Linked DNA regions of Homo sapiens: regions 1 and 3 are each linked to region 2. Evidence: fine-mapped expression QTL. A gene starts in region 2. Each other region holds a variant in brackets. All regions are shown on one strand. Distances are from middle to middle. Region 1 overlaps ARHGAP19-SLIT1 (ARHGAP19-SLIT1 readthrough (NMD candidate)). Region 2 holds the start of RRP12 (ribosomal RNA processing 12 homolog). Region 3 overlaps RRP12 (ribosomal RNA processing 12 homolog).

Region 1 (10,084 bases), 200 kb before region 2:
TGAGGTCAGGAGTTCGAGACTAGCCTAGCCAACATGGTGAAACCCACCTCTACTAAAAATACAAAAATTAGCTGGGCATGTTGGCACATCTGTAATCCCAGCTACTCAGGAGGCTGAGACATGAGAATCATTTGAACCTGGGAGGCGGAGGTTGCAGTGAGCCAGGATCGCGCCACTGCACTCCAGCCTGGGCAACAGAGCCAGACTCTGTTTCAAAAAAATAAAATATGCTGGGCGAGGTGGCTCACGCCTGTAATCCCAGCAACTTGGGAGGCTGAGGCAGGCAAATCATTTGAGGTCAGAAGTTCGAGACCAGCCTGGGCAACGTGGCGAAGCTCCATCTCTACTAAAAATACAAAAATTAGCCAGCCATAGTGGTGCGTGCCAGTAATCCCCAGCTACTCGGGAGGCTGAGGCAGGAGACTCGCTTGAACCCGGGAGATGGAGGTTGCAGTGAGCCGAGATCATGCCATTGCACTCCAGCCTGGGCGACAAGAGCAAAACTCTGTCTCAAAAAAAAGTAAAATAAAGTAAGAAAACCAAGGTTCAAAGAGGTCGTGTGACTCATAAACACCCTGCTAACGAAGTAAGGGATTCCAGACTCAAACGCAGGTCTGTGTCATACAAAGCCCGTGCTCCTTCTGTGCCTTATCCTTTCATTTTAGTTTTTATTTTTCATCAAAGTTATCCATGGACATAAATGGACAACTTGTTCTGCAAGATTTTTTATGAAAATGGCAGTTCCTCGTCCCCATTTCCCTCTCCTGAAAGTAACAACTTTCACCACTTTATTTTTTATTATTTATTTTACTTTTTTTGAGACGGGGTCTTGCTGTGTCACCCAGGCTGGAGTGCAGTGGCACAAGCACAGCTCACTGTAGCCTTGACTTCCTGGGCACAAGTGATCCTCTCACCTCAGCTTCCTGAGTAGCTGTGACTACCGGTGCATGTCACCACGCCTGGCTAATTTTTGTATGTTGAGGGAGATTTGGGGTTTTGCCATGTTGCCCAGGCTCGTCTCAAACTCCTAGGCTCAAGTGATCTGCCTGCTTCGAGGCTGCAGTGAGCTATGATCATGCCACTGCATGCCAGCCTGGGCAACAGAGGAAGCCCTTGTCTCAAAAAATAAATACAATAAGATACAAAAAAGCGGTATTGCACTGGTTATAGTTTAGCTTCTCTCTACTGGCTGACTGCTAAGAAAGATGTTGCAGCTAATTAATGAAAAAGGAATGATCAAATTAGAGTGATACCATTTTGTACCCACCAATTAATGAATGAATCTAGGCATTGTGTATCAGCAGCTGTGAACGTCACTCCCTTTACACATACACACACACACAAATAATACATTATGTGCTCCTCTTGAGGAAGGAACACACCATCACCTATAGTTGTCAAAAAATCAAAACCTGAATTTGATCAAGCCTCTAGATTTACCAATTTACTGGAAATACAGACATATTCCAGAGATATTGTAGGTTCAGTTCCAGACAACCACAATAAAGAGAATATTGCAATGAAGCGAGTCACATGAATTTGTTGGTTTCTCAGTGCATATAAAAGTTATGTTTACCCTACACTGTAGTCTCTTAAGCATGCAATTACTATTGTGTTTTAAAAGGCAATGTATATACTTTAAAAATACTTGGCCGGGCACAGTGGCTCACGCCTGTAATCCCAGCATTTTGGGAGGCCAAAAGTGGATTACCGTAGTCACAATTTAAATTTACTTTTAGAATTATTTGATTCATATCTGCCTCACTCGCTAGGCTTTAAGCTCCAAGAAGGCAGGAGTCATGCCTGTATTAGCTCGTCATTTTATCTCCTGGTTTAGCACATGCCTGGCGCATTGCAGGTGCTCAGTGAAGAGAAACTGAATGAACTAAATATTAGATTGACAAGAGAGTTTGGTCCTCCCATCCCAGCTGCCACCGTTTGCATGCTGTTGCCCAAGGAAACCTGCCACCTTCTGCAGCCGTTAGACCCCTCCTAGAGGAGCCACCTCACCTCCCTCCACCTGCTCCCTCCTCTTCACCCTCCTTGCCTGCTGCTCAGAAGCTCTAGGCAACTGGCTGGGTACAGTGGCTCACACCTGTAATCCCAGCACTTTGGGAGGCTGAGGCAGGCAGATCACCTAAGGTCAGGAGTTCAAGACCAGCCTGGTCAACATGGTGAAACTCCGCCTCTACTAAAAATGCAAAAATTAGCTGGGCATGGTGGTGCCTATAATCCCAGCTACTTGAGAGGCTGAGGCACGAGACTTGCTTGAACCTGGGTGGCGGAGGTTGCGGTAAGCTGAGATAGCGCCACTGCACTCCAGCCTGGGTGACAGAGTGAGACTCCGTCTCAAAAAAAAAAAAAAAAAAAAATGCTCCAAGCAACTAGAATAGACCTAGAAGAACTGAGGCAGCCATGCAAACCTGGCCCCTCTGGCCCCACTGAGAGCCAAAACCTCCTCCGCAGGTCCCTAACAAGCCAGTGAGTCTGGGTCCTAGGTCCTGGGTACTTCCCCTAAGGCCTGGAACTTCCTTTTTTTGAGACAGAGTCTCACTCTTGTCCAGGCTGGAGTACAGTGGCAAGATCATGGCTCACTGCAGCCTCGACCTCCTGGGCACAAGTGATCCTCCCACCTCAGCCTAGTGGTTGAACTACAGGTACCCGCCACCAGGCCCAGCTAATTTTTTGTAGAGATGAGGTTTCGCCATGTTGCCCAGGCTGGTCTCAAACTCCTAGGTTCAAGCAATCTGCCCGCCTTGCCCTCCCAAAGTGCTGGGATTTACAGGCATGAGCCGTCATGCCCAGCCTGGCCTAGAAGATTCTTAAAGACGCATCACCACAGTCATCTGAAGAATTCCCTCCACCTAAGAACCTGCTCCCCCGACTCTACCCTGCTGGATGGAAAGAAGGCCTGGGCACGTATTCGATTATCCAGTGAGGACTTGCTGAGCGCCTGCCATGGCCAGGCTCTGTGTGAGATGGTTGGGGAATGTCAGTGAACAAACACGGCAGACACAGTCACGCTCCCCTTGCTCCTTGCTCACCAAACAAATTTCATTCCATCTCTCACCCTGGCCCCTTGGGGTCTTTGTTGTTTAAGCCAATCATGGTGTTATATTCCCTTATAAATGCTGGCATTTTTTTGTAGAGATGGGGTTTCGCCATGTTGCCCAGGCAGCAAGATGAAAAAGTACTTGGCACTACTACACTATACATTTTAAATGGTTAAGATGGTAAATTTTATATTGTGTTTCTTACTACAATTACAATTTATTTTAAAAGTTTGCACATGGGTAAGACTAAATTGTAGAGTTTAAGAAGGCACTCTTGGGTGAAATTATAAAGAAATGCAAGGAAGTTTTGCTATAAAAGTAGCTGAGTTTCTCTTTGAGTATTTCGCTCTAAGTACCACCATTGTCTGTCCAGTCAGACAAGAGGACTCATGCTGTCACACCCTGAGTGCCCAGTGAAGCTGGAGCTGAACCCCAGGCCATCCTGTTTCCACTACACCGATGCTAGCATTCACAAGGGAATAGAGCACCATGACTGGCTTAGACGAATGACAATCCCAGCCAATAAAACTTGACGAGGCGTCTGCTGGGAGCTGCTGGGAAGGTTTTCCTCACCCTTACAAAGGGACATGAAGAAGAAACACCTCCTCCTCAGGCCAACATTGTGTGATGCCTGGAGCTGGGGCAGCAATTTTGCAACCTCGAGGGAAATGACTGCCACGGTGAGAATGGCAAGGCTGAAAGAAAGAACCCAGGTTATTGGTGACAATGCTGAGCTTCTGGATTCACCACCCTGGACATGCCCTTCCCCTGATATTTTTGTGGCCTATAAAGATGAAAGCCCTCATTGTTTACACTGGTCCTGGATGAGTTTTCTATTACTTGCAACCAAAAGCCACCTACAAGGGACAGCTCACGCTTCCTGAGCAACTGCTGGCTAGCAGGCACCGAGTCACAGACCTTAGTACTCTCTCATTATTCCCACTCACCGCTTAGGAGCTGGAAGTCATGACCCCATTTTATAGCTGAGGAAGCTGAGACCCAGAGATCAACAGGGACTCGCTGTGTCACACACTGAGTGCCCAGTGGAGCTGGAACTGAAGCCCAGGACATTCTCTTTCCACTACACCAATGGTGGTGATAGATTTCATCACTATGCCCATTGGAACTCTCCGCTACAAGTGCAAGGAAGGGGAACTAGGCCAGCCCAAGCCACAGGGTATCCAGGAACTCAGAATCAGTCTCTCTCTCTCTCTCTCTCTCTCCCGCCAGCTCTCTGTCTCTCTCCCATCATTGCATGCTCCATACTCTCAGGCCAGCTGCCCCACTAGGCTAGAAGTATGGCCACCAGCAACCCTAGTCTCACATCCCAATAGCCAAGGGACAAAAAGGACAGCAGTCTCACTTTCCCCAGCTCGAGTTTTATTGGCCAACCTTGGGCCACATACCCCTGCCTTGGGCTAATCATGTGAGTCTGAATTCTGGGTGCTACTTCCTGGTCTGTGGCTTGGACTATTCAAGCTCTCTAAGACTCAGTTTGCCCATCCTTAAACAAGGATAATAATAATCGTACCTACTTCATTGGGTTTTTGGGGGGATCATTCATTGATTTAATGAATACTTATTGCAGCCAATTCTGTGCCAGGCAGTGTGTTAGGTGTTGAAGCTACAGTAGAGGACAGAGACCCAATCGCTGCCCTCGTGGAGTTAATAGTCTAGCGAGAAAGACAGATGTTACATAAATAAACACATGAACGATTCTCTCTATTACAACTGTGAGAAGTGTTTTAAAAGTACAGAGTTCCACTGGAGAGAGGGAAAGGAGACCTAGCTCAGGTCAAATGAGTAACATTTAAAGAGCCCAACACTGGGCTTGGCACGACTTAGCTTTCAGTCTATGTAGCTATCATATAGTTTTTACTCGGCATCCTCCCAACCCTCTGGCCTCCCCACAGCCACTTCCCACAGGGAGAGGAGCTGAGTGACTTGGCTGCCCTGCAGCCAATTACAAGCTTCCTAGGGGACAGACAGCAAGTGTGGCACATGCGTTGGGACAGCAGCGGTACAGCAGGTCCCAGGGAAGCGCAATGCTGGTGGGCGGCACACACCCAGCTGATGACATCGCCACTTATTGGGAGCAGCCTTTCCTGGGCTCCAGCTGAAGACCCAACCAGGAGGCCTGCAGAGGCCCCAGTGGCTTCTCAGGTTCCAGGGTCTCCCAAGCTCCTTCGGCTGGCTCTGCATGGAACCCTAAAATGCA[C/T]TGCCGAACAAGTGACTTGCCTTTCACCATTGCCAGGCTCTGCCATCATGAGCCTCAACTCCCTAGCCTCAGGGACAAGGGTCCTGCCCCTACCCCTGCCCCAAGGCACCGTGCTGTATAATCACTTCCTAGTGACCGTTTGCAAACCTCTTTGTGATCCAGGGATGTGTCTGTGGAACATACTCTGTCCCCAGCAGGGCCCTATACAGCTCCTACCCACCTCTCTTGTGCAGAGGCACTGTTTCTTCAGGGAAGAAGGGCCAAGAAGCTGCCACATCGGATCACTGCCACAAACACTGGCTCCGTTCCCGCCCCCATCACCACTGCCCTGGCCTGAGCTCAAGCCCCCATGGGACCCCAGTGCCAGCCCATCTGGCTACCCGGCCTCCAGGGTCTCCCTTCCAACATGAGACAGCCAGAGGGGCTGCCTGGAGCACATGCCACTCCTCCATTTGAGCACCTTCAATGGCTCCCTGGATCTGCACCATCCGGCCAGTCCCCTAATGTTGCCACAAGGCCCTTGTGATGTGGCCCTTGCCTAACATTTCCAACTGTATGTTCTCAGCCAGCCAACTATATGCACAGAGTTTGCCTGGAACATGATACATGTTTGTCAAACACGTGTCCCCTTCTGCATTAATTTACTATGTGCCAGGCTCTGTGTGTGGCTCTGGGATGCAGTGGTAAGCCACACGGACATAGTCTCTGCCCTCAGAGAGTTCACAGTCTAGTACAGGAGGCAGACTGCAATGAAACAAAAGCAATCACAAGAGCTTATCAGGGCAGGGTGTGGTGGCTCATTCCTATAATCCCAGCACTTTGGGATGCTGAGGCAATCGGATCGCTTGAGCCCAGAATTCAAGACCAGCCTGGGAAACATAATGAAACACCCTCTCTACTAAAAATACAAAAATTAGCCGGGCGTGGTGTCATGTGCCTGTAGTCCCAGCTACTTGGGAGGATGAGGTGGGAGGATCACTTGAGCCTGGGAGGCCAAGCTGCAGTAAGCTGTGTTCATGCCACTGCACTCCAGCCTCAACAGAGTGAGACCCTGTCTCAAAAAAATAATTAATTAAAAAAAGAGTTTATAGTTACAAATTATAGTGAGAGCTATGAAGGACCCATCCATGAAGGATGGAGAGTATTAGAGAAGTGTGACTTTGCCTGGGAGTCAGCAGCTCCCCTGAGATGACACCAACCTGACATCAGATGAATGAGTAGTCACCATCCAGGTGAGGGGTTTGGGGGTGGAGGGAGAGTGTCCCTGATGCTGAGGCCAGAGAGCACCCACAGGCTCTGGGATCTGGAAGCCTGGGGGCAGGTGGGCCCTAGGGATCCCAGGGCTGTGAGTGGAGATGCAGATGGGGCATGATCCCCCTGAACCGAGGAGGGATGGGAATGAAAACAGGGAAGCCTGGTGAGTGATGCTGGGGGTTTGGACTGATGTCATCACAGTAGAAATGCCAAGTCAAAGGGGACTTTTTAATTGAACTTTTTTATTATGGAATTTTAAAAAATAAATAAATGTAGACAGAACAGTACCATGAACTCCTGAACCCCTCATCCAGCAGCATCCACAACAGCTGACCCACAGCCAAGCTTTTCTCAGCTATACCCCACCCACGCTCCTTACCCCAAATGTATGATGCCGAAACAAATCCCAGATTTGTTTGCTGTGTAGTTCACCCATGGATATTTCAGTATGTATCTCTACAACAAAAGGACTGTTTTTAACATAACCGCATTATCACACCTAAAAAATAAATGATAACACAAGGGGAAATGTCTGAGGCTTGATATTTATTGCCAAACTACCCAGAAAAGCCCCCCGCCGACCCCAAGCAGGTGTGAGGGTCCCCATCTCACTACACACTTGCCAACACTGGGAGTTACAAGAGATGGATTTCTACAAGAGGCTCACCCCAAAACCGAGGAGCTAACCCTTAAATTCCAGGTTCACTTAATTAAAATGAGGCAGCCACAGAAACACTTTCTGTGGAAATCTCTCTCACACATCCAATGGCCACTTGTGAGCGGCCAGCGATTGGGGGTTGTAGAGACAGGAGGTGGTGAGCCCAGCAACCCCTGCCAGCTCCCCAGGGTGGGCCCAGTACCGGTTCATGGAGTACCCTGCCGGCTCCCCAGGGTGGGCCAAGTGTGGGTTCACAGAGCACCCTGCTGGCTCCCCAGGGCGGGCCAAGTGCGGGTTCATGGAGCAGGGCCCCTGCCCATCCTTCATCTCCCACATCTGCCCTCAGCCAATGGGGCAGACTGAGAAAGGGTTTCCTTAGGACCCAAGGGTTTCCAGAAACAACCCACCAGAGCCAGAGAGGGAAGGACCAGCAGGTGCTCCCTCCTATGGCAAGCACATGCCCCTTCAGAGCTCAAAGGGTTTCTGTTTGAGCTGAAACCTAGGGACTCACTGCCTTGCCTCTCCTCAGACCTGTGCCCCCCCTACAGTGACTCATGGGCGTCCCATTCAGTCAGGAACCTAGAATATTAAAAGATCTACAAGCCAGATAGGTGAGTTTTCAGGTTCAGAAAGCAGTTTCATCTTTCTAGTAAGATGGAGGCAGCCACAGTTCCAGAACTCTCTGCGCAGTTCCCTAACCTTTCTGAGCCGTGGTCTTTACCTAATCAGGTTTGACTTCCTGCTACAGTCTCCTACTCTCAGTCCAGAATAGAGGCGGCAACCAGGCATGGTGGTACGTGCCTGTGGTCCCAGCTACTCAGAAGGCTGAGGTGGGAGGATCGCCTGAGCCCTGGGAGTTCAAGGTTGTAGTGAGCTGTCATCGCACCACTGCACTCCAGCCCAGGTGAGAACCTATCTCTAAAAAAATTAAAAATAGAGACAGCTGTCCTTCCTGCAAGCCAGCCAGCCAGACACTGAGTCTTTGCTGTGTTCCAGGCACCCTGCTAAGCCAGGGAGATGCAAGGGTGAATAGGAACTGATCCCTTCCCTGCAGGAGCTCACCATCTCTAAGAAAAGCAGTCACATAAACACTGTGCAACGTGACCAGGGCTCCAGAAGAGATGCGTTCATGCTGCTGTGGGAATTCAGCTAGTGGAGCCAAGAGCTCTGCCTGGAGAGAGAAGGCTTCTAGGGGGCGGGATCTTAAAAGCTGGGGCTTGAATGACACTGGGGAAAGTCAAGGTGGGGGAAATCATCTCCTGGACAGGACATGAACTAACACTCTTTGGATTCAAGCAGCAGAACATCTTTTCATACACTTACTGGACATTTGTACGTCTTATTTGAAGTAATGTCTATTCATATCCTTGCCCATTTTTAAATTGGGTTATTTGTTTTTTTTTATTGTTGAGTTGTAAGAATTCTTGGCCAAGCTCAGTGGCTCATGCCTGTAATCCCAACACTTTGGGAGGCTAAGTCAGGAGGATGGCTTGAGCCCATGAGCCCAGGAACGTGAGACCAGCCTGGATAAGACAGCGAGATCCCATCTCTACAAAAAATTAGCTAGGTATGGTGGTACACATCTGTAGTGCCAGCTAATGGGGAGGCTGAGGTGGGAGGATTGCTTGAGCCCAGGAGGTTGAGGCTGCAGTGAGCTGTGATCACATCACTGCACAACAGCCTGGGAAACAGAGCAAGACCCTGTCTCAAAAAAAAAAAAATTCTTTATATATCCTAGACACTACTCCCTTGTCAGATATATAAGTTGCAAATATTTTCTTCCATTTTGTGAGTCTCAATATCCTTTCATACCTTTTGAATCTGGTGCCATATACATATACTAGCTATTCAGATATCATAGGTAATTCAACATTTTCTGGAGCCACAATAAGAAAGTAAAAAGACAGCTGGGCGCGGTGGCTCATGCCTGTAATCCCAGCACTTTGGGAGGCCAAGGCGGGTGGATTGCTTGAGGTCAAAAGTTTGAGACCAGCCTGGCCAACATGGTGAATCCCCATCTCTACTAAAAATACAAAATCAGCCTGGTGTGGTGGCGGGTGCCTGTAATCCCAGTCACTCAGGAGGCTGAGGCAGGAGAATCTCTTGAACCCGGGAGGTGGAGGTTGTTGCAGTGAGCCAAGATCGTGCCACTGCACTCCGGCCTGGGCGACAGAGCAAGACAGAAGCTATATTATGTAGAATTCCATGACAGTGAATGAGGTATTCCATGGACACAGATGGTTGCACTGGCAGAAGTATTTTGGGAAGAGATGGCAAATCCATATCTAGAATAAGAGTCTGTTCCAGTGAGGACAAAATTGATGTCCCCTCTATGGTGGAAGGGGTCCAATGTAGTTAGTCTGCCACCAGATGGCTGGCTGAGGTCCCCCCACCTCCAGGAATGATGAGCTTCTGAAATGTCTGGAGGGCATTTTCTTTCCTTCCTTTCAACATTCACTCAACAATTTGCTGGGGGCCTCCTCTGGTCCCAGCCCTATGCTCAGACTATAAATGACATAGCAGGGGTTGGGCCCTTGGTCACTGTCTCAGGCTTAGGGTTTAGAGACATGAGAAACAGAAATGGCTGCCATGGCCACCACTGCTAAAACAGAATGACCCAGTGAAAAGAGCACTGGGCAGGGAGTCTGGGGTACCTGACTTCTAGTCCAGGTTTGCCGCTAGCACCCATGTGACAGAAGTGGGGACACTGTGCTTCTCTAGGCTCAGATTCCTCATCCTTGAAACAGAATGGAAGCTCCAGGATGGCGAGGACCAATGGTGGACCAAGGCTAGGGGGTGATGAGGGGGTACGTTGTGGAATCAGTTCCCCTTGGGTGCAGAACACAAGTCATTTGTCAGCCGGGTGCAGTGGCTCACATGTGTAATCCCAGCACTTCGGGA
Region 2 (9,918 bases):
CAGGGCCTAGGTCCATACCAGGGGGCCCAGCAAATAACAAGACTCAGAAAATGCTTGCTAAAATTCCACCATGAGGTACTAACCTTCTAGAAATACCTGCATGAGATGAGTGTGCAAATATTTATGTACAAGGATGTTCATGGCAGCAACAAATTGGAATGGTCAAGAAGCCATCAACAGGAGATTAATAATGTACTGTAGTTGTCTCTAATGTACTGCAGTTATCGAGGGGGGGATTGGTTCCAGGACCCCTAAAGATACCAAAATCCGAGGATGCTCAGGTCCCTTATAAAAAATGGTGTAGTATTTGTGTATAACCTATATACATCTTCCCATATACTTTATTTATTTTTTTTGAGATAGAGTCTCACTGTTAGCTAGGCAAGAGTGCAGTGGCATGATCTCAGCTCACTGCAACCTCTGCCTCTGGGTTCAAGCAATTCTCCTGCCTCAGCCTCCCAAGTAGCTGGGATTACAGGTGTGCACCACCATGCCCAGCTAATTTCTGTATTTTTAGTAGAGATGGGGTTTTACCATGTTGACCAAGCTGGTTTTGAACTCCTGGCCTCAAGTGATCTGCCCTCCTTAGCCTCCCAAAGTGCTGAGATTACAGGCATAAGCCACCATGCCTGGCCTCCCATATACTTTAAATCATCTCTAGATTACTGGTAACACCTAACACAATGTAAATGCTATATAAATAGTTGTTATACTGTATTTTTGTTGTTGTTGTTGTTGTTGTTGTTTTTGAGACAGAGTCTCACTCTGTCACCCAGGGTGGAATGCAGTGGCGCACTCTCTGCTAACCGCAGCTTCCACCTCCCGGGTTCAAGCGATTCTCCTGCCTCAGCCTCCTGAGTAGCTGGGATTACAGGCATGTGCCACTACGCTAGGCTAATTTTTTGTACTTTTAGTAGGGATGGAGTTTCACCATGCTGGCCAGGTTGGTTTTGAACTTCTGACCTCAAGTGATCTGCCCGCCTCGGCCTCCCAAAGTGCTAGGATTACAGGCGTGAGCCACCTCGCCTGGTATATTATTATTATTTTAAAAAGATTTTTCAATCCATGCTTGGTTGAATCTGCAGGTGCAGAACCCGCAAATATAGAGACCTGACTGTATCATTATATAATAATGAAAAATTTAAATAGTGCATTATTCAAAAGAATGAGAACAACTATATATTAACTTATAAATATCGTTCAGTAGGGAAAAAGTTGCAGAACAGTGGATAAAAAATAAACTAATCAAGCAGGGCACAATGGCTCACACCAGTAATCCCAACACTTTGGGAGGCTCAGGTGGGCAGATCCCTTGAGCCCAGGAGTTCAAGACCAATCTGGGCAATATGGCAAACCCCATCTCTACAAAAAATACAAAAATTAGCTTGGTATGGTAGCACTCCCCTGTAGTCCCAGCTACTTGGGAATTGGAAGGCTGATCAGCCACTGCACTCTAACCTGGGTGACAAAGTGAGACTCTGTCTGAAAAAAAAGAAAAGAAAAGAAAAGAAACTAATCACATTTTGGTAAACCTAAATAACAAAATTGGGTAAAAAAAAATACGTATATATATATACATATATATATATATATGTATATATATATACGTATTTTTTTTTTTTTTTTTTTTTTTTTTGAGATGGAGTCTCGCTCTGTTGCCCAGGCCGGACTGCGGACTGCAGTGGCGCAATCTCGGCTCACTGCAAGCTCCGCTTCCCGGGTTCACGCCATTCTCCTGCCTCAGCCTCCCGAGTAGCTGGGACTACAGGCGCCCGCCACCGCGCCCGGCTAATTTTTTGTATTTTTAGTAGAGACGGGGTTTCACCTTGTTAGCCAGGATGGTCTCGATCTCCTGACCTCATGATCCACCCGCCTCGGCCTCCCAAAGTGCTGGGATTACAGGCGTGAGCCACCGCGCCCGGCCTTTTTTTTTTTTTTTTTTGAGACAGAGTCTCGTTCTGTCACCCAGGCTGAAGCGCAGTGGTGCGATCTTGGGTCGCTGCAACCTCTGCCTCCAGGGTTCAAGTGATTCTCGTGCCTCAGCTTCCCAAGTAGCTGGGATTACAGGCGCATGCCACCATGCCAGGCTAATTTTTTAGTAGAGATGGGTTTTCACCATGTTGGCCAGGCTGGTCTCAAACTCTTGACCTCAAATGATCTGCCCACCTCGGCCTCCCAAAGTGCTAGGATTACAGGTGTAAGCCACTATGTCCAGCCTGAAAATTTAGTTTTTAAATTTCAACTACTCATAATTTAAAATATTTGATCTATTTACTAGAAAACATATATTTGTAACAACCTGGCAAATAGGTTCGTAGTAATTCATAGTAGGCAAATCTACTTGTACAACCATAAATGTTATGAACTCTAAATAGACACAAATCAAGTATTTCCAATGAAAATTTAGCATCTAAGTAGGGGTATATGGGTAAATTATACACTAGATTTTGAAGACTTGGTATCATAAAAATAATGCTGTAGTAAAATATACTGATTATACATTGAAGTGATAATATTTTAAAGATACTGAGTTAAATAAAGTACATTATTAAGATTAATTTGGGCCGGGCGCAGTGGCTCACACCTGTAATCCCAGCACTTTAGGAGGCCGAGGCGGGTGGATCACCTGAGGTCAGGAGTTTGAGACCAGCCTGACCAACATGGAGAAACCCTGTCTCTATTAAAAACAGAAAATTAGCCGGGCATGGTGGCGCACGCCTCTAATCCCAGCTACTCGGGAGGCTGAGGCAGGAGAATCACCTGAACCCAGGAGGCGGAGGTTGCAGTGAGCCGAGATCGTGCCATTGCACTCTAGCCTGGACAACAAGAGCGAAACTCCGGCTCCAGAAAAAAATAAAAAGATGAATTTATTTTACCTGTTTCTTTCAGTTTTTAATATGGCTACTAAACATTTTTAAATTACATATGTGGCTTGAATTTAGATTACTATTGGACAGAGCTGGTCCAGGAAGACAGACAATGACCCATTAACAGGAGCTCTGTGAATGATTCAAGTTGGGGGATCTACCATCACATTATATTATTCTTATATCATTTTGATATCATTTAGAATTTTGACATTTTTTATTTCAATAACAAAAAATATATATAACTTTATAGTATAGATAAAATAATAAAAGTAAGGCCAGGCACGGTGGCTCATGCCTGTAATCCCAGCATTTTAGGAGGCCAAGGTGGGCGGATTACCTGAGTTCAGGAGTTTGAGACCAGCCTGGCTAACATGGTGAAACCCCGTCTCTACTAAAAATACACACACACAAAAAATTAGCTACTTGAATAATGCACTATTTAAATATACTAAAAAAAAAAAAAAAAAAATTAGCCGGGCGTGGTGGCACATGCCTGTAATGGCAGCTACTTGGGAGGCTGAGGCAGGAGGATTGCTTGGGCCTGGGAGATGGAGGTTGCAGTGAGTGAAGATTGCGCTACTGCACTCCAGCCTGGCCAACAGAACGAGACTCTGTCTCAAAATAAATACATGAATTAAGTTAAATTAAAGTAAATAAATTTAGTTCTTGCTAGATAAAACGTTTCCTAATCACTGTTACTCAGCATTTATTTACTCAACATATGTTTATTGAAAATACTCTGTGTAAAAGTGCTGTGTTAGGTATAGCTGAGGAGAGAAATGTTTGGAAAATATTTCTACCCTCAAGTACTTAAGCAGAGGAGATGTTCTTATAAAAAGCAGAAAGTAGAACCTGCCCTAGGAGGAGACATAAAGGGGAGGAGCGATGACGCATCATCCAGAAATACCAGCTGTTGTCATCGGAGACCTGTCGGCCAGAGCTGAAGAAAAGGCATGAGTTGGCCTCTCCTCACTATCCTATGGCCCTCCCGACCCTCGCCCCTACCTCCTTGTGGGCAGCCGAGTTGGACTCCCAGAAGCGCTGTACTTTGCTGAAGGTGACGTTTGTGCAGTCGGAAAGGCCACTCAGGAAGGTACCCGAGGACTTCTCGGTGAGAACCAGCTCCGCCTCTTCTTCCATGGGCGTCTCCGGGGCTTCGCTTTTGCCCAAGCGCAAGGACCCTGACTGCAGCTCATTATGTAACTTCACAGCATCGACTGTCAGGTCACTCCTTCCTGAGAGCCAGAGGCACAAGATAAGGTCCAAGCCTCCTTTTGGTCAAGAGAACAGAACAACCCCTGGGAAACAAACCAGCCCAGGCCAAATCTCCAACCCGAGAGGCTGAATTCTGAACACAGCCAGTCTCATAAAACCACTGTATGCCTAAAAACTTGAAAAACCAAGGAGAAAGGGAATCCTCCATGTAAAAGTTTCTGCTTCCCTGTAGCAGCGGCATAAACGCCACTGGGAATCGGCTGGGAGCTACATTCAGAGGGCCTGCAAAATAAATGAAGGTGAACGCGCTCTGTAAAGAGCTACCCAAGGTCCAAGCCATCTGTCTCAACTCTGACACCCGCGGTACCTTACACAAGACATTTCCCTACTGCGGACCTCAGTTTCTGTATCTGCTAAATTGGAAGGACTGCCCTTCAGAGAGGGCTCCAGATCCGACATCCTAAGAGACGAAAGGTCCAATGCCTGGCCCCGCACTCTCCCAGAGGCCCCAGACTCATCTGGACCCAGGTCTGCCTGGAACCCCGCCCCCGGCTGCGCTCGGGTCTCAACCCAGCTACCTGACGGCCGGCTGAAGAAGCGGCTGCGGGCGGCCTGACGGTGGCGGCAGATGGCGGGGTTGCTGTCGCTGCTGTGGCCTTTCTTCCAGCGCTTCAACTTAGCTGAGACACCAGAAGGCAACTTTCCCGAGCGACCCATGTTGACTAAGCCGTGGCGAGGAATGAGCTTAAATGACCGGCTTCCAGGGACGTAGAAACACGCTCAGAACCCACGTGGATACCCTGTAGCCTTCACTTCCTCTTCTTCTGGCGTCACTTCCGGATTCGTGTGCATTACTATGGTAAAACAGTCAACATCCGGTTTTACACCTCCTCCTGGCTTCGGATGGGGAGGAGCTCCAAGGAGATCCGTTGCTAGGGAGGAAGTTAGGTTGCTAAGGGTTCTATGGGGTTCTTACTCCAGCCAGGACCAGGTTTCAGGGCCACAGGCGTAAGCCTTATAAAACTGGAGTTTGGCTGAGCGTGGTGGCTCATGCCTGTAATCCCAATACTTTGGGAGGCTGAGGCGGGTGGATCATTTGAGGTCAGGAGTTTGAGACCAGCCTGATCACCAGGGTGAAACCCCGTCTCTACTAAAATAAAAAAATTAGCTGGGCTTGGTGGCGCGCGCCTGTAATCCCAACTACTCGGGAGGATGAGGCACAAGAATCACTTGAACTCGGGAGGCGGAGTTTGCAGTAAGCCGAGATCACGCCTCGGCACTCCAGCCTGGACAACAGAGTAAGACTGTCTCAAAAAAACAAAACAAAGCAAACAAAAAACTGGAGTTCTTTTGCAGTTAAACAACAACAAAAAGTACATTTATATTACATTTGAAAATCTATTTTCAAAATTAAGCATAGAAACACATTTATATGAAAGTCATATACCTTCATATAAAAGTATATATGTAATCCCAGCACTCTGGGAGGCCGAGGCGGGCAGATCACCTGAGGTCACGATGTTCGAGACCAGCCTGACCAACATGGAGAAACCCTGTCTCTACTAAAAATACAAAATAAGCCGGGCGTGGTCGCGCATGCCTGTAATCCCAACTACTGGGGAGGCTGAGGCAGAAGAATCGCTTGAACCTGGGAGGCAGAGGTTGCGGTGAGCTGAGATCACGCCATTGCACTCCAGCCTGGGCAACAAGAGTGAAACTCCATCTCAAAAAAAGAAAAAAAGAAAAAAAAGAAAAGTCAAAACTTATGGAGACTTGAAAGTGTGAAAATTAGCTTGACTTGAAAAGAGAAAAAAGCAGTCAGTGGTGTTCTAGACAAGCTTTGCTATTTTCATTTATTACTGGAGATACTCAGTTGCTAAGCCACCTTGCCTTATGACAGCATTCCATCCCTAATTAATCCCTGGTTCTCCAATTTCTCTCTCTCTCTCTCTTTTTTTTTTTTTTTTTTGAGACAGAGTCTTGCTCTGGTGCCCAGGCTGGAGTGCAGTGGCACGATCTCGGCTCACTGCAACCTCCACATTTCAGGTTCAAGCAGTTCTCCTGCCTCAGCCTCCCAAGTAGCTGAAATTACAAGCATGCACCACCGCGCCCGGCTAATTTTTTTTTTTGTATTTTCAGTACACGCAGAGTTTCACCATGTTGGCCAGGTTGGTCTCGAACTCCTTTCCTCAGGTGATCTGCCCACCTCCCAAAGTGCTGGGATTACAGGCATGAGCCACCGCACCTGGCATCCGGCCAATTCCCAGTTCTCCTAATTCCACCTCAGAACCAGCAACCGATCCAGTTTATCCCCACTCCCCTGAGACCCTCCTTAAAATCCTTCAACCAGATCCCAAACCTTACAAAAGACACATTTCTCTTCCCTCTTGCCCAGCAGCTTTATTCTAAACCTTTAGCAGCATTCTTTGGAAGAAGATATATAGAACTAACAAAGTACATCTATAATATATAAAGAATTCCTACCAATCAATAAGAACAAGGCAGACAATCCAATAAAAAGAATGGGCAAAAGGGACAGGTGGGTGCAGTGGCTGATGCTTGGCCTGGAATTCCAACACCGTAGGAGGCCGGGGGGCAGGGAGTAGAGGGGAGGAAGGATTGCTCCAGCCCAGGAGTTCAAGACCAGCTTGAGCAACATCATGAGACCCAGTCTCTACAAAACATACAAAAATTAGCTGAGCATGGTGGTGTGAACCTGTAGTCCAGCTACTCAGGAGGCTGAGGTGGGAGCCCAGAGAAAGTCAAGGCTGCAGTGAGCCGTGATTGCACCACTGCACCCCAGCTTGGGTGACAGTGTGAGACCCTGTCTCAAAAAAGAAAAAAAATTAAAAAAAAAAAAAAAAAGAATGGGCGGCTGGGTGTGGTGGCTCACGCCTGTAATCCCAGCATTTTGGGAGGCCAAGGTGGGCAGATCACGAGGTCAGGAGTTCAAGACCTGGCCAACATAGTGAAAAACCCCATCTCTACTAAAATACAAAAAAAATTAAGCTGGGCGTGGTGGTGGGCACCTGTAGTCCCAGCTACTTGTGAGGCTGAGGCAGGAGAATTACTTGAACCCTGGAGGTGGAGGTTACAGTGAGCTGAGATCGTGCCACTGCACTCCAGCCTGGGCATCACAGCGAGACTGTGTCTCAAAAATAAAAAAAAAGAAGAATGGCAAAAGACACAAACAGCTGAACATCATGATGTATTGTACAAAAAATAAAAAAGTCATGAACAGGCACTTCACAAAAATTAATATCCAAATGGCCAATAAATATATGAAAAACAGGCCAGGCATGCTAGCTCACGCCTGTAATACCGGCACTTTAGGAGGCTGAGGCAGGAGGATCACTTGAGCCCAGGAGTTGGAGACCAGCCTGGCCAACACAGCAAGACCTGTCTCCTCAAAAACTAAGAAAAATAGTGGGGTGCAGTGGCGTGCACCCATGGTCCCAGCTACCTGGGAAGCTGTGACAGGAGAATCTCTTAAGCCCAGGAGTTTGAGGTTGTAGTAAGCTATGATAGCACCACTGCACTCCAGCCTGGGTGACACAGTGAGACTTTGTCTCAAGAAAAAAAAAAGAAAAAGAACAGACCAGAACAGAAAAGATACCAGTTTCATTATCAACATGGGAATACAAATTAAAATCACAATGAAATGCCACTACACACCCACCAGAATGGCTAAAATTAAAAAGACTAGCAATACTAATGTTGGTAAGGATGTGGAGAAACTGGCAACATATGCTGCCATTGGAGTATAAAGTGATACAACCATTTTGGAAAACTGTGTGGTAGTATCTACTAAAACTGAATACAGTCTTGCTCCATGACCCAGCAATACCTTCCTGCATATTTACTCAACAGAGATGTTTACTTATATGCAAAAAAGAGATATAGGAGGATGTTCACAATGGAAATAATAAAATGTCCATCAACCGTAGAATGAGGCTGGATGCACTGGTTCACACCTGTAATCTTAGTGCGTTGGGAGGCTGAGGCAGGAGGATTGCTTGAGGCCAACAGTTCAAGACCAATCTGGGCAAAATAGTGAGACCCCATCTCTAAAAAAAAATTAAAAATTAGCCACATGTGGTGGCATGCACCCGTAGTCCTAGCCACTTGGGAAACTAAGGCAGGAGGATCACTTGAGCCCAAGAATTCAAGGTTAGAGTGAGCTATAATCATGCCACTGCACTGCAGCCTGGGCAACACAGTGAGACTCTGTGTCTAGAATAGATAGATAGATAGATAGATAGATAAGACAGACAGGCAGACAGAGAGATAGAGTAGAATGGATAAATTGTGACATATTGATATATAATGGAATACTATAGTATTTGACTCTGTATAGCAATGAGAAGGAACTACTGCTACATATATCATGCATGACCTAGGTTGAGTAAAAGACTCCAGACACAAGAGTACATAGTTATAATCCCATTTATTTATGATTTAATTATTTATTTATTTATTTTGAGACAGAGTCTTCCTCTGTCACTCAGGTTGAAATGCAGTGGCACAATCATGGCTCACTGCAGCCTTGACCTCCAGGCTCAAGCAATCCTCCCACTTCTGCCTCCCGAGTAGCTGGAACCACAGGCATGCATTGCCATGCCTGGCTAATTTTTTTTTTTTTTTAAAGCTAGGGCCTCACTCTGTCACCCAGGCTGGAGTCCAGTGGCATGATCATGGCTCACTATAACCTTAAACTCCTGAATTCAAGTCATCCTCCTGCTTTGGCCTCCCAAATAGCTGGGGCTACAGACACATACCCACCACACCAAGCTAATTTTTTTTTTAAGAGACAGAGTCTTGGCCAGGCGCGGTGGCTCACGCCTGTAATCTCAGCACTCTGGGAGGCCGAGGCGGGCAGATCACAAGGTCAGGAGATCGAGACCATCCTGGCTAACACAATGAAACCCTGTCTCTACTAAAAATATAAAAAATTAGCTGGGCGTGGTGGCGGGCACCTGTAGTCCCAGCTACTCGGGAGGCTGAGGCAGGAGAATGGCGTGAACCCAGGAGGCGGAAGTTGCAATGAGCTGAGATCGTACCACTGCACTCCAGCCTGGGCAGCAGAACGAGACTCCTTCTCCAAAAAAAAAAAAAAGAGACAGAATCTTGCTATCGTTGCCCAGACAAATCTCGATCTCCTGGCTTCAAGTGATCTGCTCGCCTTGGCCTCCCAAAGTGCTGGGATTATAGGCGTGAGCCACCATGCCCTGCTTACATGTATATTACACTTCATGGGCTTACTGAAAATACAAAGTGGGCCGGGGGCGGTGGCTTACGCCTGTAATGCCAACACTCTGGGTGGCTGAGGCAGGCAGATAACTTGAGCCCAGGAGTTCGAGACCAGCCTGAGCAATATGGTGAAACCCCGTCTCTACAAAAAATATGACAATTAGCCAGGCATGATGGCAGACACCTGTAGTCCCAGCTACTCGGAGGCTGAGGTGGGAGGATCGCTTGAACCCGGGAGGCGGAGGTTGCAGTGACTCGAGATTAAGCCACTGCACTCTAGCCTGGGTGACAGAGTGAGACTCTGTCTCAAAAAACAACAAAAAAAAGTGGTCCTCTCACCTAGAGCAGAGAGAGCATAAAGTGTGTTAATGTGAGAAAGCGTCGCTGCAGAGAAGACTGAAGTCAGTTCAGACTCTAGGCCCCAGCCCTTCCAAGTCTCTGAAGACATTATCATCCTCCAGTGGGGCCCTGTGCCTGGGTCACAGGCTGAGACCTCAGTGGGAAGGCTGAGAAAAGGGAACTGGTGGCTGGGGGAGGAAAAGGAAGCAGAATGTGGAAACTGTTATAAGCGAGCTGTGCTCAC
Region 3 (10,084 bases), 48 kb before region 2:
TCTTGTCGCCCAGGCTGGAGTGTCATGGCACAATCTCGGCTCACTGCAACCTCTGCCTCCCAGGTTCAACCAATTCTCCTGCCTCAGCCTCCCAAGTAGCACATTACATGTGCCCGCCACCACACCCAGCTAATTTTTGTATTTTTAGTAGAGATGGGTTTTCACTATGTTGGCCAGGCTTGTCTTGAACTCCTGACCTCAGGTGATCTGCCTGCCTTGGCCTCCCAAAGTGCTGGGATTACAGGCGTGAGTCACCATTCCCAGCCAAAGTGAGGCACTTTTAACAGCAATGCTCCCAACCCCAACTGCACACACACATAAACACAGTCTAAGTAGAAACAGTAAGCCTGGTATGCAAACAAAGCTTCCACATGAGTCCAGCCCCAGCCCACCTTCCAAGCTGCAAGTGACTGCTGCCCTTGGTCCCGGGTTTCTGGAAATGTAGGAGCCTTGGTTGTTTGCCACCCTAAAGCCTACTCATCCTCCAGGTCTTAGCTAAATGCCACTCCAAGAGGCCCTCCTGCTATGGCTCCCTTCACTTGCCCAAACCAGGACCCAGCATGATATCCATGCCGAACCTTCATAGCACTATCCTTTTTTTTTTTTTTTTTTTTTTTTTTTTTTTTTTTTGAGACGGAGTCTCGCTGTCGCCCAGGCTGGAGTGCAGTGGCGCAATCTCGGCTCACTGCAGGCTCCGCCCCCTGGGGTTCACGCCATTCTCCTGCCTCAGCCTCCCGAGTAGCTGGGACTACAGGCGCCCGCCACCTCGCCCGGCTAATTTTTTGTATTTTTAGTAGAGACGGGGTTTCACCGTGTTAGCCAGGATGGTCTCGATCTCCTGACCTCGTGATCCGCCCGCCTCGGCCTCCCAAAGTGCTGGGATTACAGGCGTGAGCCACCGCGCCCGGCCAACACTATCCTAATCATGTGTTTTATTAAATTTTTTATTTATTTGTTCTGGCTCCTCATAAACTTAGTGAAGGCAAGGATCCTGCCTGCATTGCTTACTACTCTATCTCTCACCCCTCACCAAATGTCTTTTTGGAAGTCCTTTGCTCAGAATAAATGCCCAATGAGAGAGAGAGAGAGAGAGAGAGAGAGAGAGAGTGTGTGTGTGTGTGTGTGTGTGTGTGTGTAAGGGAGAGAGAGAGAATAAGAAATGTGCAAGAAGAGGCCGGGCGCGGTGGCTCATGCCTGTAATCCCAGCACTTTGGGAGGCCGAGGCGGGCGGATCACGAGGTCAGTAGATCGAGGCCATCCTGGCTAACACGGTGAAACCCCCTCTCTACTAAAAATACAAAAAATTAGCCGGGCGTGGTGGTAGGTGCCTGTAGTCCCAGCTACTCGGGAGGCTGAGGCAGGAGAACAGCGTGCACCCAGGAGGTGGAGCTTGCAGTGAGCCAAGATCGCGCCACTGCACTCCGGCATGGGTGACAGAGTGAGACTCTGTCTCAAAAAAAAAAAAAAAGAAATGTGCAAGAAGATCGCGGAAAGAGACTTGCAGGCCAGCTGCATCCCCCTCCTTGGAAGAGACACGAAGGAATGCCCAGCCCAGCCCAGCCCTTCCCTTCATGTCAAGTTCACGCTGTTCAAGCTCACCCACCTCTCACTGAGTATAAACAGACCTGTTTTGTAATTGGTCTTTATCCCAGAGTAGCAGAGCTTTGGGAGCAAAGAGCCTGCAGGGTAATGAATGGGAGGGAGAACAGACGCTGGTGTCCAACTTCACATGGCATTTGGAAATTCACAGCCAAGCCTCTTTGCAACACTGTGCCCTCCCCGGGGGCTAATTTCAGCAGGCTGCAGCAGCATAGGCTTTAACTCCAGAGACCTGGGTGCTACCTTCTGCTACCTGCATAACTCTGCCCAAACCATGCATCCTTTCTGCCTTTCAGTTCTCAGCTGCGAAGTGGGAATCATGATAAAGATAACCATAATCACAATGCAAACAGGGCAACTGTTGCAAGGATCAAAAGAGATGGTGGGTGTGAATGTGTTTGGTAAGCTGGAGAGCTCCGTACAAGCTCCAATTGTAACTGCCACCGTACCTGTGCAGGAGATTCAAATCTGGCAGGTGTGACTGTGCATGTAACAGACGCTAGACCCCTTTGTGAAATCCTGAGGAACCCCTACAGGACCCACGTGATAGTCCTCATGTGAGCAGGGAGGAATTTTCTCAGAATACTAGATGTCAGCTTTGCTAGTTGATAATTATGAGTGTTTGCTTTGGAGCACCCCATCTTCTTCGAGGAGTTGAACTAGCTGCTGGAATGATGAATGAAGGCGTTTTTAGATAAGTATTATCACACAATGATCCAATCGATACACATAAAATCTGCTCAGGGCAACACTGTGCCTTGTCATTTTTATGAGCATATTTACAACTGAGGGTTGGTCTCAGGTTATCTACTGTGTATGTAATTCAGGCTCAGTGGCCTCAAGTCCAAGAGCTATGGCATAGCAACTGTTCTGGTTAAAAACAAGACTTCTGGCCGGTCATGGTGGCTCACACCTGTAATCCCAGTACTTTGGGAGGCCGAGGCGGGCGGATCACTTAAGGTCAGGAGTTCAAGACCAGCTTGGCCAACATGGTGAAACCCCATCTCTACTAAAAGTACAGAAATTAGTCAGGCGTGGCAGCATGCACCTGTAATTCCGGCTACTTGGGAGGCTGAGGTAGGAGAATTGCTTGAACCCAGAGGTTGTAGTGAGCTGAGATCATGCCTCTGCACTCCAGCCTGGGTGACAGATTGAGACTCTGTCTCAAAAAAGCAAACAAACAAAAAACCAAGACTTCCAAGAGCTTGCAGAACCTTCACTGGTGGAGGACCATGAGGGCTATACAGGTTATTCCTGGCACCAGTTGCAAATCCATCTGCCTGTCATCAGTGCCTCACATCCTCTTTGAAATTCTGACTTAAAATCATCAGCTCTGTAATGGGTGATGGGTGACATCCCTGGAATTTGGAAATCAGGCTGCCCTCTGGAAGTTAAACCCTTCAAGTCTACACGAGGGACAGGATTAGTTATCTGAACAAGGCCCCAGAAGGAACAGGATGTCTCTCTGGTGAAAGCCAGAACTGGCCTTGGAAATTCAATCCAGGCATGCCTGCCTGTGAAGGAAGCCTTACTAAATCTCAGAACAGGCTGGGCCTGGTGGCTCACGCCTCTAATCCCAGCGCTTTGGGAGGCTGAGGCGTGGGTGGATCACCTGAGGTCAGGAGTTCGAGACCAGCCTGGCCAACATGCTGAAACCCCGTCTCTACTAAAAATACAAAAAATTAGCCGGGAGTGGTGGTAGGCATCTGTAAATCCCAGCTACTTGGGAGGCTGAGACAGGAGAATCGCTTGAACCTGGGAGGCGGAGGTTGCAGCGAGCCAAGATCGTGCCACTGCCCTCCAGCCTGGGCAACAAGAGCGAAACTCTGCCTCAAAAAAAAAAAAAAAAATCTCAGAACAGCTTCTGAACAGCAGGTAAATGGCTGCAAAGGCCCTACAAGATACCAGAGAGGAAGGATCTGTTCCATTCTGCAGCCAACCAAAATAGAGGGGCAGGGCCCCAACAGGCTGCTAGGAGAATGGGCCCCTGTAGGCAGATATATCCCCAGAGACAAAACTGTCCCACCCCAATGACAATATTATTCACATATCACTTGCATGATTCCATTTGCCCTGTTTTATGCCCCCAGTACAGAAAACACACTGGTTTCAGCTTCCTATGCAAGGGAGCATGTGCTGAGCAGTCACCTTGAGTATCTTGGGCAGTTATAGTTCTCATTATAAATTAATATATTATAATTTCGACTAGGTCTCATGTGAATCTGTATCTTCTTCTCTGAACCTGATCAATCCTGATTTTATCCTTATTTATTTATTTAGAGTTCCAGGCTGGAGTGCAGTGACTATAACAGGCTGGACCAAAGTGCATTGCAGCCTCAACCTCCTGGTCTCAAGTGATCCTCCCACCTCAGCCTTCCAAGTAGCTGGGTCTAGAGGCACATGCCACTGCACCCAGCATCAATCCCAATTTTAGACTTGTAAAGCTGATCTCCAGTCCTCAGCCCTGGAATGAGTATGCAGCAGCAAGCCACTACACCATCTACCTACGTTCTTAGTCAGTATTTACTGATGATTGACCACGGCCTCAAAACCCAAATCCAGGCATTTCCATGACGAATCATTGAGATTTGGAATGGGAGGAGGAAATGTGCCACTGCATCCCTGGCCTTGGATAACTCAGCTGGCCTCTAACAGCTTGGTGTTTCTAATGGCAGTAGCTACGTCAAGCATAATTTCAGGAAATGGCAAACCAGCTTACATTGTCCCAAATCAGGGTTATTTTCTGGAGTACAGTCATCTATCTATTCACAATAATGTATATCGAAAATAGAACATAGAGTAGTCATCACGGCATTTTCTAAATACTCCTTTGCACACGGTCTGGCATCTAGTGATGGCATTAAATTCCTGCATACAGCAAAGAACAACATACTTATGGACTCAAAGATGCTTTGTAAACTGAACTATGTCCGCTGGGCAGATGTTTAAAGCTGAGCTACTGAAAATGATGTTTATAGCCGGGTGCAGTGGCTCATGCCTATAATCCTAGCACTTGGGGAGGCCGAGGTGGGCGGATCACCTGAGGTTGGGAGTTCAAGACCAGACTGACCAACATGGAGAAACCCCATCTCTACTAAAAATACAAAAATTAGCTGGGCGTCGTGGTGCATACCTATAATCCCAGCTACTCGGGAGGCTGAGGCAGGAGAATCACTTGAACCTGGGAGGCAGAGATTGCAGTGAGCCAAGATCGCGCCATTGCACTCCAGCCTGGGCAACAAGAGTGATACTCCGTCTCAAAAAAGAAAAGAAAAGGAAATGATCTTTATGAAGCATTTACATTAGTATACGGTAAGAACTTTAGTCAAGTGCAAATTTAGAACACAAATTGTCCAGGCATGGTGGCTCATGCCTGTAATCCTAACACTTTAGGAGGCTGAAGCAGGAGGATTGTTTGTGTCCAGGGAATTTGAGGCTGCAGTGAGCTGTAACTGTGCCACTGCACTCCAGCCTGGATGACAGAGCAAGA[T/C]CTTGTCTCAAAACACACACACACATATATATATATAAAGTGTAAACTTGCATTTTAAAACATTTTTTTTTTTGAGATGTAGTCCTGCTCTGTTGCCCAGGCTGGAGTGCAGTGCCGTGATCTCGGCTCACTGCGATCTCTGCCTCTCAAATTCAAGCAATTCTCTTGCCTCAGGCTCCCAAGTAGCTGGGATTACAGGCACGCACCACCATGCCCAGCTAATTTTTTTGTATTTTTAGTAGAGACGGGGTTTCACCATGTTGGCCAGGCTGGTCTCAAACTCCTGACCTCAGATGATCCACCTGCTTTGGCCTCCGAAAGTGCTGGGATTACAGGCATGAGCCACCGTACCTGGCCCCATTTTTCCTTTTTTTGAAATAGGGTCTTACTCTGTTGCCCAGGCTGGAGTATAGTGACATGATATCGGCTCACTGCAACCTCTGCTTCCCAGGCTCAAGCTCTTCTCCCACCTCAGCCTCCGGAGGACCTGGGACTACAGGTGTACTCCATCACGCTTGGCTAATTTTTTGTAGAGACAAGGACTCACTATATTGCCCAGGCCAGTCTCAAACTCCTGGGCATAAACGATACTCTCGCCTCAGCCTCCCAAAGTGTTGGGATTACAGGTGTGAGCCATTGTGCCTGGCCTTACATTTTTTCCTTAATTAAAAAAAAAATAGCCCTACGTATATTAAGAAAAAAAAGAATGAAATGCACTAGTAATAACAGAATTTGGTGGAAGGATTTTAGCCCCTACTTTTACTTTTGTTTTTTCCAAATGTTCTGGGAATCTTTATCACTTTTGTAGTGAAATATATACGATTTTAATTTTTAAAATTACCCTTTGAGGAAACATAAGCAACCAAGAAAGAAAAAATGGGGAAAGGACTCTGAGGACTGAAAACAGGCTACCTGAACTTCATAAGCAATTTTGTTACATGTTGCAAACAGTACAGAAAAAACACCCTTCTTGGGACTGATCATGCTGTAAGTAGGACTAGCTCTAAAGATGGCCACTGGCAGGAATGAACTGCCAGGACAGTCCCCACCAAGCCTTCTGCCACAATCACGAGAAGGGAAATAGTGAAGGGGCAAGGTCAGTTTAACCTGACTCACCCATGGCCAGAAGTGTCACAATGTGGACATGACTAGACCGCCTTTGCAAATCCCCAAAGCTTGACCACTCCCTTGGCCAACTGCAGGGTTGCGGTTTTCGTAGTCAAGCAGGGTAGGACCTGTTTTCCATTTCTGAGAATGAGTGGAGGATGGACCCCAGAAAAGCAAGCCTCAGATTGACATTCCCAAAAGCACAAATTGAAAATCTGGAGAGTGAGAGCTCTCAACTTTCCTATTCACCCTAAAATTGGATGAATCTTTTGTTGATGAACACTCCTAAGACTCTCTTTCGCCACACTGTTGAAACAACACTGACTTTGTTTTTTTTTTTTTGAGACAGAGTTTCGCTCTTGTCACCCAGGCTGGAGTGCAAAGGCGCGCTCTCAGCTCACTGCAACCTCCGCCTCCCGGGTTCAAGCAATTCTCCTGCCTCAGCCTCCCGAGTAGCTGGGACTAGTGTGTGCCTCCACACCCAGCTAATTTTGTATTTTTAGTAGAGACAGGGTTTCACCATGTTGGCCAGGCTGGTCTTGAACTCCTGACCTCAGGTGAGCCACCTGCCTTGGCCTCCCAAAGTGCTAGATTACAGGTGTGAGTGATTGCGCCCGGCCTCAAGAACACTGACTTTCAAAATACACCTGAAGTTTCAGGGTGAAGATTAATTCTTGCCTCTGCATCAAGATCACTTGCATTTGAAGTCTACTTCCAAAAGAATATGGCATTCAGCACATCACTAACACCAACCTTTCTAGGTCACCTGCCTTTCCCATCTTTAAAAGAAAACAAAGTTCCTTGGAAAATGTGCTATATATAACAAGGAGGTTGGCTTCACGCTTTCTTTTTTTTTTTTTTTTGAGATGGCGTTTCACTCTTGTTGCCCAGGCTGGAGTGCAATGATGCGATCTCAGCTCACCCCAACCCCTGCCTCCCGGGTTCAAGTGATTCTCCTGCCTCAGCCTCCCGAGTAGCTGGGATTACAGGCATGCACCACCATGCCTGGCTAATTTTGTATTTTTAGTAGAGATGGGGTTTCTCCATGTTGGTCAGGTGATCCACCCGCCTCGGCCTCCCAAAGTGCTGGGATTGCAGGTATGAGCCGTGCCTGGCCTTTTTTTAAAAAACAAACAAACAACACCAATAAGCTGGGCGCAGTGGCTCACGCCTGTAATCCCAGAACTTTGGGAGGCCAAGGTGGGCGGATCACAAGGTCAGGAGTTCGAGACCAGCCTGGCCAACATGGTGAAACCCTGTCTCTACTAAAAATACAAAAATTAGCTGGGCGTGGTGGCGGGTGCCTGTAATCACAGCTACTCAGGCGGCTGAGGCAGGTGAATTGTGTGAACCTGGGAGGCAGAGGTTGCAGTAAGCTGAGATCACGCCATTGCATTCCAGCCTGGGTGACAGGGCAAGACTCTGTGAAAACAAACAAACAAACAAAAAACAAAACACCAATGCTGGGCAATTGGCTCATACCCCTATCTACTTTACACAAAGCTTCCCAGTGCACGTGGTCACATTTCCTGAGAAAGGAAACAGGAAGGACTGGGCTTGGCTTACTTCGGCCCAACTTGTGTCCAGAAGTGTAACAACGGGGAGTATGGTTAGATCCCCTCTGCAAATCTCTCCTAGCCACTCCTGACCACCTTTCTTGCTTGCTCTCCAATTCTAGATTTCTGTGAACAAGGCATGTAAACAGTGCCACCTCTGGGCCGAGTGTGGTTCCTTTCAGCTTTTCCTAGCCCCAAATCATTGGGAGGAAATGCCCTAATTTGGGGAGCGCCAGATCCAATTAAGACTTGGGTCCCCTTAGATAATGAGTGGAAGAGTGTGGTGGGACAGGCTGCCAGGAGGTGCACAGGGCCTCCTGGGACCATTATCAGAGCCAAGTGCCTTAAACTAGAATGGAAACGAGGAATGTGTGCATGTGCTCGCCTCACGTTGGGAGGATCTGAGATGGGAAGAATGTATCAGTCAGGTGCTAGGGCACAAAGCACACTCATACTGGGGTGTGGGAACAGTGCTGGGGTTCTTTGCTTCTGGCTGCCTGTGGGATTGTATCCACATGAGGGGACCTGGGCTGACAGGACAGTGACCTCAGGACTTCTGTGCCATGCCCTTCTCTGCTCCAGACCAACAAAGCTGGCCCAGTGAATCACATTACACAAACAGATCCCCTTGTCTGGGAAAAAAAGAATGTGGGAAGACACGGAGGTGAATGAACAAGGCTATGCTGGGCACTTAGAGGGGCTCAGCAAATACTTTGTTGAATCAATGAACAAAGATGCTGGAGAGACTTGTGCCCAGGACAGCTGGGGCAGTCCCTGGTGCTGAACTGCAGCTCCCGACACCAGCCCTGGGGCATTCGCTGCCCCTCCTGACACAGGTGGGTGCTCCCGGGCAAGTTCCAAAGCCTGTCCTATGGGCAAAGCCTTATGATATGCCCTGGACTGGATGTAAGGAGTTAGACAGGAAGAGGTCAGGCCACTGCTGCCAACAACTGCACACTGTTCTTACCCCTGGAGGGGGCAGACTATGAAACAGTTTCTAGAAAAAAAATGCAGGATGAGACACATTTATTCTACATCTGGTCACAGTAAATCTCACCCAGACCACAGGCAGGATGCCACGTGGCTACAGGCAGCTGGCGGAAATGGAGATCATCTGTTCTGGTGCTCATGGCCACTCTGGGCAGAAAGCAAAGGTGCCTCATGGCACCTACTCAGAGGCACTGAGGCCACATTCCCATCTCCAGGCACCAGGGATGTCTCTGAAGGGTGATTCCATTTGGAGTTTCCAAAATCCAGGACTTCTGAGAGCCAAGCCCTAGTTCCAAGTCATCCTGAGTCCAGGCTCTGCCAGAATCTTGAGCACCTGGAGCTGGTGGCAAGGCAGCCTGGGGGCTGAAAGGGCCTCAGACTGGACCACAGGGCAGCCCAGGGGCCCTGGGCCTCAGGGTCGACGATCCTTTCTGCGGTTTTTGTGTCCCACCTGGGAACCTCGCCGGGCAGCCTTCACCAGGCCTTTGAACTGTCCCTGCAGCTTCATCTTCTTCCTGCAGGGCCAAGGAACGGAAGGGTCACATCTGGCTGAGAATAGGAGGCCCCCTCCTGTTGCCAAATGATGGCTCACCCCCAGCGCCAGCAGGGATGAGAAGGGGGCCTCCAGGTGGTGGCCAGCACATGAACTAGGCAGACCTCACGTGGTTCCAGCTTCCACACGGCTCATGTCCTGACCTGGACATTCCACTTTGGCACAATTATCCCCCTGGAAACAGGCCTCCCTTCCATTTTTCCTCTAATGTATGTCCAGAGAAGGTCAAAGCTCCCTCTGCCCACCCATCCCTCCATTGAAAGGTAACTTACAACCCGCAGAAGCTAGAACTTTACAACACCATTTCCCTAGTAACATTAGTTTCCAAAGCAGTCCTACACATAACCCAATTTAAGGGCCAAAGTCGGAAACAACTCTAATTTCCTACCAATAAAGGGATTAGAAAAGCAAATTATACAAAGCTATTAAAAATGATGACTATGGCTGGGCGTGGTGGCTCATGCCTGTAATCCCAGCACTTTGGGAGGCCGAGGTGGGCAGATCACAAGGTCAGGGGATCAAGACCATCCTGGGTAACACAGTGAAACCCCGTCTCTACTAAAAATACAAAAAAATTAGCCGGGTGTGGTGGCGGGTGCCTGTAGTCCCAGCTACTCCGGAGGCTGAGGCAGGAGTATGGCGTGAACCCGGGAGGCAGAGCTTGCAGTAAGCCGAGATCGTGCCACTGCACTCACTCCAGCATGGGTGACACAGCGAGACTCCGTCTCAAAAAAAAAAAAAAAAGATGACTATGTAGAGTATGTAAATACCAGAAAACATCTGTATGAC

The links.
Region 1: its variant is fine-mapped to the expression of RRP12 in left ventricle (GTEx, PIP 0.97).
Region 3: its variant is fine-mapped to the expression of RRP12 in monocytes (TOPMed, PIP above 0.99).

Annotation. Positions count from the first base shown.
Region 1 is chr10:97,199,859-97,209,942 of GRCh38, forward strand. All of the region lies in intron 11 of ARHGAP19-SLIT1 (ARHGAP19-SLIT1 readthrough (NMD candidate)), which reads right to left. It overlaps LOC112268065 (a long non-coding RNA gene), which reads left to right. Exons shown (of 3, transcript XR_002957098.2): 3 at 3,427-3,863. Among named protein-coding and RNA genes, the nearest start is that of SLIT1, 19 kb to the left of the region's middle. RefSeq lists a silencer at 2,553-2,612 and an enhancer at 3,289-3,888. The variant C/T (reference allele first, on the strand shown) is at 5,272.
Region 2 is chr10:97,396,430-97,406,347 of GRCh38, forward strand. It overlaps RRP12 (ribosomal RNA processing 12 homolog), which reads right to left and starts at 4,911. Exons shown (of 34, transcript NM_015179.4): 1 at 4,664-4,911; 2 at 3,876-4,105. The coding sequence starts at 4,802. RefSeq lists an enhancer at 4,395-4,444.
Region 3 is chr10:97,347,940-97,358,023 of GRCh38, forward strand. RRP12 (ribosomal RNA processing 12 homolog) reads right to left here. Exons shown (of 34, transcript NM_015179.4): 34 at 8,762-9,257. The coding sequence ends at 9,155. Among named protein-coding and RNA genes, the nearest start is that of FRAT2, 18 kb to the left of the region's middle. The variant T/C (reference allele first, on the strand shown) is at 5,090.